2 linked regions of the Homo sapiens genome follow. The protein of the gene in region 1 purifies or fractionates together with the protein of each later gene. This does not show direct contact. Each region holds a gene or a part of one and is shown on either strand. Other genes may lie near its edges.

What was found. The genes of interacting proteins can lie anywhere in the genome.
Region 2: the proteins of SLCO1B3 (region 1) and ATP11B purify together in Homo sapiens (affinity purification with mass spectrometry; one large-scale study listed by BioGRID and IntAct). This does not show direct contact.

The regions. Positions count from the first base shown.
Region 1 is NC_000012.12:20,808,934-20,814,026, reverse strand, and holds the start of SLCO1B3 (solute carrier organic anion transporter family member 1B3), read right to left. Parts: upstream 3,323-5,093; 5' UTR 3,263-3,322; intron 504-3,262; 5' UTR 389-503; intron 1-388. UniProt on the Homo sapiens protein: Mediates the Na(+)-independent uptake of organic anions.
Region 2 is NC_000003.12:182,796,069-182,800,731, forward strand, and holds part of ATP11B (phospholipid-transporting ATPase IF), read left to right. Parts: intron 1-4,663. UniProt on the Homo sapiens protein: Catalytic component of a P4-ATPase flippase complex which catalyzes the hydrolysis of ATP coupled to the transport of aminophospholipids, phosphatidylserines (PS) and phosphatidylethanolamines (PE), from the outer to the inner leaflet of intracellular membranes.

The DNA.
Region 1 (5,093 bases):
TAGATACCTTAGATATGTAAATATCTAAGTATGTAAATATCAATGTTATCTATATAAGCATCCGATTTGTAATAGGATACTGATTATATAATATGTATGATATAGGTTATATGTACAATTGATTCTCACGTTTTGCAATAATTATGTTCCATAAAGTTGCTGGGAACACTGAATTTGCAAATATTAATCCATCATTCCTAGAAGAGATACAGTGTTAGGTGACTGTGTGGCTTTGGTCACAATATTTTAATCAACGGATCAATACATAACTTAATACATAATGTTTTATGTATGTTTTTGTTTAAAGACACCTTAGTATATACTGTTGATTCATTAACATTGAATTAGTGGCCAATAGCACTGTAGTTCATGCCTGAGGGAAACTTACATAGCATATGTACCTCTTCTGTCAGGCCCTCTAGGAGGTGGGAACAACGGGACAACACTTCAGGGCTATGCTTGAAGTCCATTTAAAACAGTAAACTCAGCATCGCAAAGCACAACTATGGAAACAATGTGGCGATAAATGCACTGTGAAGTTTATAGTATGGGAGCTGAGAGAGGAAGGCAGAGCTTCACTTTGTTCCACTTCAACTGGAAACAGAGCAACTCAAATTTTTCACCACTCTGCTCATGCATGCCAATGATCACAAAAGCCCAGCAGTATTAATTTTGGTGTCACAAACAAATTTTAGTGTTTAGACAAATTTTCTAATATAGAATCTGTGAATAATGAAGATCTACTGCATATTTTATGCATTAATTTACTCAACAAGGATTTATTGATTCTCTATATTATAAATGCATAAAAACCATAAATATATATCATGCATATTTAGTGGATAATGCATGAATATGGAAAAATCAATATCTGAAGATATTATCACTTATGTATATGCGAGTGTATATAAATACACTCATGAATGGAGAAACCCATACCTATGTATCTCTAAGAGAAGTTCAATTATTCCACTTTTTGTATGTGTTTTGTAGGTAAAGTGAGGAAAAAAATCAATAATTTGGTGGTCTCAAGGTAATAAGCAGCCCCTTAATAAATTTACACCACTTTTTCCACGAATATCTCTGTTTCTTCATAATTTAAAAGTTGGAAAATATTTATTTTTTACCAATTAATTCTATAATTGCAAATCTTTTTGAACGACTTGCAAGGCAGATAGTCTTCCTTCAGCTTTAGAGTTTTCTTTTTCTTTATACTAAACAAATATTCTTGAAGGCTTGAAGACTATTATCTCACCACTCAAGCCTTGTTTCTTTCAATTGATTAATTTCTACTTGTCCTGTCTTCCAGCTTGCTTTCTTTCCTATGCATATCATGTCCATTCTTGGAATCATTCAAAGATCCCTCTTACAACAAAAATAAAACTTACACTTCCTATTTGAGGGTCTTCACAGCCTAAATGAATCCAAGTTTTTAGTCCCATTTCCCAATACAACCATAAGCACTTGCAGATGTATGGAACCACTGTCCCAACAGAAAAGCTCTCTACCTTCATGTATATGTCTTCCATTCCTGGAATGTCCTTCCCTATCTCTTGGCTGTAATGCGGCTCCAAATCACACCACTTTAATGTTTCCCTATTTACCTCTAGTTGAAATAAACTCTCTCATCCTCTCATCCTTCTGTACCACTGGAGAACATACCCGAATAATCATTACTTTTTTCTGTTATTTCCCGTACTTTCCAAGACAACTATTCCACACCTCTCTCTTTTATGTTCAGATAAAATACCCATCCAGAAAAATAAGAAATGTGGGCACTTGGTTTCTCATCTCTCAGAAAGGTTAAATTGTATCAAGTAGGCCGGGAGCAGTGACTCATGCCTGTAATCCCAGCACTTTGGGAGGCCGAGGCGGGCAGATCACCTGAGGTTGGGAGTTCGAGACCAGCCTGACCAACACAGAGAAACCCCATTTCTGCCAAAAATACAAAATTAGCTGGGTGTGGTGGTACATGCCTGTAATCTCAGCTACTCTGGAAGCTCAGGCAGGAGAATCACTTGAACCCAGGAGGCTGAGGTTGTGGTGAGCTGAAATCACGCCATTGCACTCCAGCCTGGGCAACAAGAGCGAAACTCCTTCTCAAAAAAAAAAAAAAAAAAATGTATCAAGTAAGTACAAAGTACCTACAAAACTTGAATATCAATTTAGCCTTGAATAAATACCACACTTTTTACTTCATTGTGGCATTTTAAGCCTTATTTAGAAGCGTTTAATATATTTTGCTCTGAACATATTATTTCTGAGTTCCAAATTATTGACATAAATAAATGTTGAGGACACAATATGTTTATAGACAGAGCCACAGGCATTTGTATGCAGCATTGCAACTCTTCCCTGAACAGAACAGGTCAGTTCTTCACAGTTTGATTGGGCTGAAGTAGAGGGCAGAATCTTACCAGCCTCTGCTTATTTCTGTTTAGCTTTTCATATTTAAGGGGTTATAGAAAACCAGTGCAGGCCAAGTGACCCAGTTTCTAGCATGTACCTATGGAACTGAGGAGGATAAAAGGGAAAACAGCATTTCCTAACTTCTTAGATTGTTCAGAGGAGAGAATTTCTGCATCCCCACCTTACTTTCACAATAAAAATAACTGTCTTATCAGGGAAGCCACCTTCCTGAATGGGTGAAGGGGACCATTATTTATTGAGCTGTTAATTCTTTCCAAGAGCTGTGCCCAGAAGATTTTTTTCTCTTATTTGAACAGAGATAAAAAAGTTATCTAGAAAATCTCTTTCCCCTCACCCTAAATCAAACGAGTTGAATGGAGGAAAGTGAGGTGATTAAGTGACTTTGAAACATATTTTCCACCCCTCCACCCGCCCACTCCTACTTATCCAGTTAAAGTGAAATCAAAGAAATAGGGAGCCTGGTATAGTAATTCAATACAGTTTATACAAATAATTATCTTATAGTATATTTTAAGAGAGTAACTAGAAGTCCATCCTTTCAGACTTCATGTTTCATTTGTTTAGAAAGCAATAGAAATAGGACTCCAAACTTTATTTTTCACTTTATAAAGGTATGATTTACTCTTATTTTTGAGTATATAAATCTGAGGCTCTTCTATTTCTAGAAGGGATATTTACAAGGCTTTAAGGGCTCAGAACAAAAGTGTGGAGAAGACACAGAGCATAAAATCTGTAATATTTATCATAACTACCAAAAACATTTTCACTGAAATTTGTTAAAATTTCTTACATAAAAGAAATGTTTTAATTAGACAACCTCGACGGTTCTTACCTTGACTTTGAATGCTACAGCAACTGCAACAAGTCCATCCTTTTTCTGATGTTAAAGTCTCACTTTAAATGGTTAGTTGGCTTTTTATTTGTTTGTTTTTATGAGTCCAATGATGATTAACCATCTTATTAGGTCATTGTCCTAGGCAAACAGAAAAAACATACCTAGCTAATTCTAGGAGTTCACCCCAGAAGCCTATCTTTTAAACATTTTATTAATAATTTCTCAGAATGTACACATTATGTTAACATTAGAAAATAAATTATTTCTGGGAATGATTTATTTCTTATTCAATTAAGTTGGTTGCATAAGATTTTCTTCTTTAGAAATACAAATACAACACATTATCCAAAGTATTTAAAACTATTCCAAATAGAAAATATGTCAAGGCGATTTTTTAAAATGTCCCTACATGTTACATTAGCATTCAAAAAATAAAACATACCCTCTTTGCTTGTTACATGTGTATGGATCTAATATGACGTACATGGACACTGGATATCTCACATGGAATACTAAATTGCCAATTAATTACAAGACTAGTCTTCTAAATGACAAAAATCAAGACTAGTTTGTATGATATATTCCTTACATCAATGTGTAAAGGAAGAATGATCTCCTTCTATTGACTTGCTCTTTAGAGAATGGAAGACCTTCACTCAGTTGAAACTTTTCTTGAGTAAGGATGAAGTCAAATTAATTAATTCAGTAACTCAAACATATTTGACTCCCTACTATATCTCAGGCACATGGCTGTGTTTTAGAAGTGTACTATAAAAATATAAATAATAAACGGAGTCTTCTCTCACATGTATATATACACACACATGCATGAGTGTATGTATATATGTATTTATGTGTATGTGTGTATGTATATAGCAAAGAGAGAATGCATGTATGAAAACATTGTTACCCCTTATCACTGACAGGACAGTTGTTGATACAGTTGCAGCAATATGTATTTAATTTCTATATCACAGTTATTTGATAAACTAGTTTTTTTTTTTTTTTTTGAGACGGAGTCTTGCTCTGTCACCCAGGCTGGAGTGCAGCGGCACGATCTCGGCTCACTGCAAGCTCCGCCTCCCGGGTTCACGCCATTCTCCTGCCTCAGTCTCCCGAGTAGCTGGCACTACAAGCGCCCGCCACCACGCCCGGCTAATTTTTTCGTATTTTTAGTAGAGACGGGGTTTCACCATGTTAGCCAGGATGGTCTCGATCTCCTGACCTCGTGATCTGCCCACCTCGGCCTCCCAAAGTGCTAGGATTACAGGCGTGAGCCACTGCGCCCAGCCTAGATTAGTTCTATACCTGGTTAATTCATGGAAGTATTAGAATAATGAAAGGAACCGGAGTGTGGAGGGAGAGAAGGATTAGAAAATGTGGGGAACACTGAAGTGTAGACCTGGGGCAGGGAAAATTAGATATAGGCTCCCAAACACCCCTCTGTTGAGTCAAAATCTACTGGGGAGCCTTTGTCAAAAGTGCGATCCAGCCCCACACCCAAGAGATTCTGATTCACGAGTTCGGAGATTATGCTTTTTAAATAAGCACTTAGAATAATTTTTACATACTGTCAGCTTTTGAGAACCATCATAGCAGAGATACTAAACATTAATTATCAGTTTTATGGCTTTTCTTTTATTCAGAATGGGAAGACAGTTTGGATATTCTCATGCTAATGGTTTTCTCCTCACACATCCATTTCATTCAAGACACATCAATTTCATTTGGGACAAATACATGCATAGAATGAAGATAAAATAGTACAAATGCACTGAGAAACTTTCTAATCCCTAAACTAACGCTATCAGTGGTAAAATTCTGGAAT
Region 2 (4,663 bases), on another chromosome or scaffold:
TTTAATTAAAAAAAAGTGTGACTCCTTATGACAAAATATTTTCACTACTTGAGAAGATGGAAAAATCAGAAAGTTGACAGAAGCTTGATCTTTTCTATTGGGAAAGTAGGCTGAAAATAAAAAGATTGGAATATCCTTTTTTGTTTTTCTTTTTGGCACACAATGTTAAAGTTACTTGACACTAAGAAAATTCTCTTATGGTGTCTTTGTGGTACAGTTAGTATTATTCAAAGTATACTCATTTTCAGTACCATATTTTATGTATTAACTCATTAGAGATGACAATACCTTGATTATAATTATGGAAATGCCATTAGCTACTCACTGTATTCTAATATTTAGACCTGTACGGTAGCCATTAGCCACAAGTGGCCATTAAAATTAAAATTGGAGCCATATGTGGGTATTAAAATTAAAATTTGAATTCATGTGTCTATTGGCTGCCATTGGCTGCCATATTGGACAGTTCATATTTTCATTATCACAGAAAATTCTATTGGACAGCACCAATTTAGACTTTTAAATGAAAGTCTGTGTCAGTACATATTTGAATGTAATACTACATTTTTAAAGCACTTGCTGTGTGCTGGTATTAACAGATGCTGAATACCAGGGATACAAATGTTGGTCAGGGTCACACATACTCTACATAAGTAGACATTGGATACATGTTGCTGAACAAATAATTAATAGATGAGGAAAGAAAGAATGAATCTGTAGTGTTGTTTCTGTGTTTAGAGACAAAAATGACCAAATTTAAGATTGACTAGCCCAGAAAAAAGTTAGAAAATGAGTAATTACACAAAAACAGTATTACTAGGATAACTGTTTCTTAAACTGTTCCATAAATGTAATCCCTTTAGATTGTATTGGCGATGGTGGTAGGAGGCTGCTAAGATTGTCTTCTGATTAACTGAGAAAAATGAGAAGGTCTTAATCTGAACTCCCTCAACTTTCTGTTCTTCCTCACACTCACCGAACTTGCTTATATTTTATACTGGTACTTAATTCTTCCCTTCACAGTCACAAGGAAGATGCAACCCTCTTTTCCAAGATAACAATTCCACTTAAGCTTTTGATCCTTTTCTTTCATTCTGCTGTCCATACTCCATCAGTTATCATTAGTATGTTTCTTTTCTTTCTCTTTACTTTTTCTCTTAACTTGTGAACATGTTCAAGCCTCTCTGCTACTTTTTCCTGTACCTGTAACTGGCAAATTCTTTTTAATTTTCTGAAAAACAGATCTATAAAACTGTGCTGGCTGATGTATTTGGAATGTGGCTAGTTTGAGTAGAGTTATTCTTACGTATAAAATACACATTGGATTTCAAAAACAGTATTAAAAAATGTAAAACCTGGCCGGGCAAGGTGGCTCATTCCTGTAATCCCAGTACTTTGGGAGGCCGAGACAGGCAGATCACCTGAGGTCAGGAGTTCGAGACCAGCCTGGCCAACATGGTGAAACCTCATCTCTACTAAAAATCCGAAAATTTGCCTGGCGTGGTGATGGGCACCTGTAATCCCAGCTACTCAGGAGGCTGAAGCAGCAGAATCACTTGAACGTGGGAGGCAAAGGTTGCAGTAAGCCAAGATCATGCCACTGGACTCTAGCCTGGGTGACAGAGGGAGACTCTGTCTCAAAAAAGAAAAAAGAAAAAAGAAAAAAGAACTCTCATTTTTTTGTTAGTTACATGTTGAGATATTATAATATTTTACATATATAGGTAAAGTAAAATAAATTTTTGGAATTTTGTTTCTTTTTACTTTTTTTAAAGTGGTTAGAAATTTTAAAGTTACCTACGTGACTTGCATCTGTTGCTCATGTTCTATTTCTATTAGTGCTGCTGTATAACATTAAAAGTGAATTCCTGTATCCTGGTAAGAATAGTGAGATCCTGTCTCTAGGAAAGAAAAAAAAATTAGCTGGGCATTGTGGTACTGACTTGTAGTCTCAGCTGCTTGGAAGGTTAGGGTGGGAAGGTCACTTGACCCAAGTAGTTTGAGGCTGCAGTGAGCCATGATCATGCCACCACACTCTAGCCTGGGTGACAGAGTGAGACCGTCTGAAAAGAATAGTGAGCTCCTGTTTTTACAGAACACATTGTGGAAGTCTAGATATCTCACTTACTAGACTAGACTGTAAATATCTTAGGATAAGAACCATATCTTACTTGTATTTATATTCCTTACACTCAAGACAGCAGTTGGCCCATTGTAGGTATTCACCTGCCAAATGTTGGTTGAATAAATGAATGAGTATCAGATCTAATTCAGCATCAGTTTGAAAATACCTGCATTCTCTGCCTCTTTTCCAAGGAATGAATGAAGGAATAGAAAAAGGAAGCACTGGCCTAGGGTGGTATTTTTTTTGTGGATAAGTTTTAACCTCAAGAATTAATGTTTAAGAACCTAGATCTGTGAGTATGTGCTGCTTTATCTCTATTTTCAGACATATATTCTTAGATACGCAGTTTTGCATTTGGTTAGGAAGAGGATAAAGCATTAGAGGAAACTCAGGTATTCCCAGCAACACTGAAGTAGGGACCTTGCTCCAGATCCTCTAAAGAGCCTTATGATTACCATTATTGTCATTAAATGTTTTCTAGACCTGTGCTATTCAACATGGTATCCACATATGGCTGTCGAAATGTAGGCACTTGAAGTGTGTCTACTCTGAATTGAGATGTGTGTGAATGAAATATGCAGTGGATCTTGAAGACTTAGTTTGGAAAAAGGATGTAAAATATCTCATTCATTTTCTAATTGATTACATGTTGAAATTATATTGGGTTATATAAATATACATGTATTTGGTTAAATATTAAATGCTACTTGTTTATTTTTACCTTTTTTTAAATGTGGAAACTAAGAAAATTAACATATGTGGCTTAGGCCATATTTCTGTTCTACAGCATTGTTTTAGATTATGGTAACAATATATAATGCCTGGCATAGGCAGATTCAAGAAAGTTTTTGATTCTAAGGACTTTATGACTTTACCCAGGCTTTTTTTCTGTGAGTTTTCTATTTTCAGAGTGTTGGTCTGCATTATATCTAAGAGACTAGAAGCTGCCTGATAGACTAACTGCATCTGGTCCCTTGGAAATAATTTATCAAGTCAACATCGACTGCTGTGGGGTTCTAGATTTAGCCATGCTGTTTATTCTTCATTTTGTTTCTGCAGTTGTCTGAGTGCTGATCTTTCTTTCTTTCTTTTTTTTTTTTTTTTGGAGACAGTTTCGCTCTTTCGCCCAGGCGGAGTGCAGTTGCGCGATCTCAGCTCACTGCAAGTTCGCCTCCTGGGTTCCCACCATTCTCCTGCCTCAGCCTCCGGAGTAGCTGGGACTACAGGCGCCCACCACCACGCCCAGCTAATTTTTTGTATTTTTAGTAGAGATGGGGTTTCTCCGTGTTACCAGGATGGTCTCGATCTCCTGACCTCATGATCCGCCCGCCTCGGCCTCCGGAAGTGCTGGGATTACAGGCGTCAGCCACCATGCCCGGCCCGAGTGCTGATCATTCTAAGCAAGATAATATTCATAATTAGCTTAGTTTTTACTAGAAATGTGCATTTTTATTGTTTAATTTTAATTTTTTTATTCTCAAAAGGAAGTAAACGTGTATTTTTTAAAAAATATCAAAATGAAACTCAAGATTTGAGTTTATAAACATAGTTGAAAGATTTTATTCTCAGATATTCTTTATTTTGCTTTTTTTCCTGGAGTTTCTCTGTTATAAAATTTAGTATAAGAAAAACATTCTAGGCCAGGTGTGGTGGCTCAAACCTGTAACCTCGGCACTTTGGGAGACACACAGGAGGATTGCTTTGGGCCAGGAGTTTAAGGCCAGATTGGGCAACATAGTGAGACCCTGTGTCTACAAAAATTAAAAATTAGCTGGGCATGGCGGTGCCTGCCTTTAGTCCCAGCTACTTGGGAGACTGAGGCAGGAGTATTGCTTGAACACAGGAGTTCAAGGCGGCAGTGAGCTATGATTGTGCCAGTACATTCCAGCCTGGATGACAGAGTAAGACCCTGTCTCTAAAAAATAAAAATTAAAAAAAAGAAAGAAACAAAAACATTCTTGATTGGATATTTATATGGGAAATACTATGAGACTTATTTTTAAGCCAATACTTCAAGTTAGAAATTATATATATAATTTTTTTTTTGAGATAAGGCCTCACTTTGTCTCCCAGGCTGTACTGCAGTGATGTGATCACAGCTCACTGCAACCCCAAACTCCTGGGCTCAAATGATCCTCCTGCCTCAGCCTCCTGAGTAGCTAAGACTTCAGGCATTTGCCACCACACCCAGCTAATTAAAAAAAAAAAAAAATTGTAGAGGTGGGGGTCTCACTATGTTTCCCAGGCTGGTCTCAGACTCCTGGACTCAAGCGATCCTCCTGTCTCAGCCTCCCAAAGTGCTGAGATTACAGGTGTGAGCCACTGTGCCCAGACGATGTTTGTATTTAATTTTTTTGCATATATGGTTATAATGCATTCAGTAAACATTCACCTGTATTGTGAATGACATGCATTGAATTTCTGTTACTTCTCAGCACTTGGGAATGGCTCTGAGGGAACTGTTTGACTCTTGGGTGTGCTTAGGAGAAAACTAGAACACAAATTTTTTTGCTGACTGGCTCACTTAAAATTGTACAA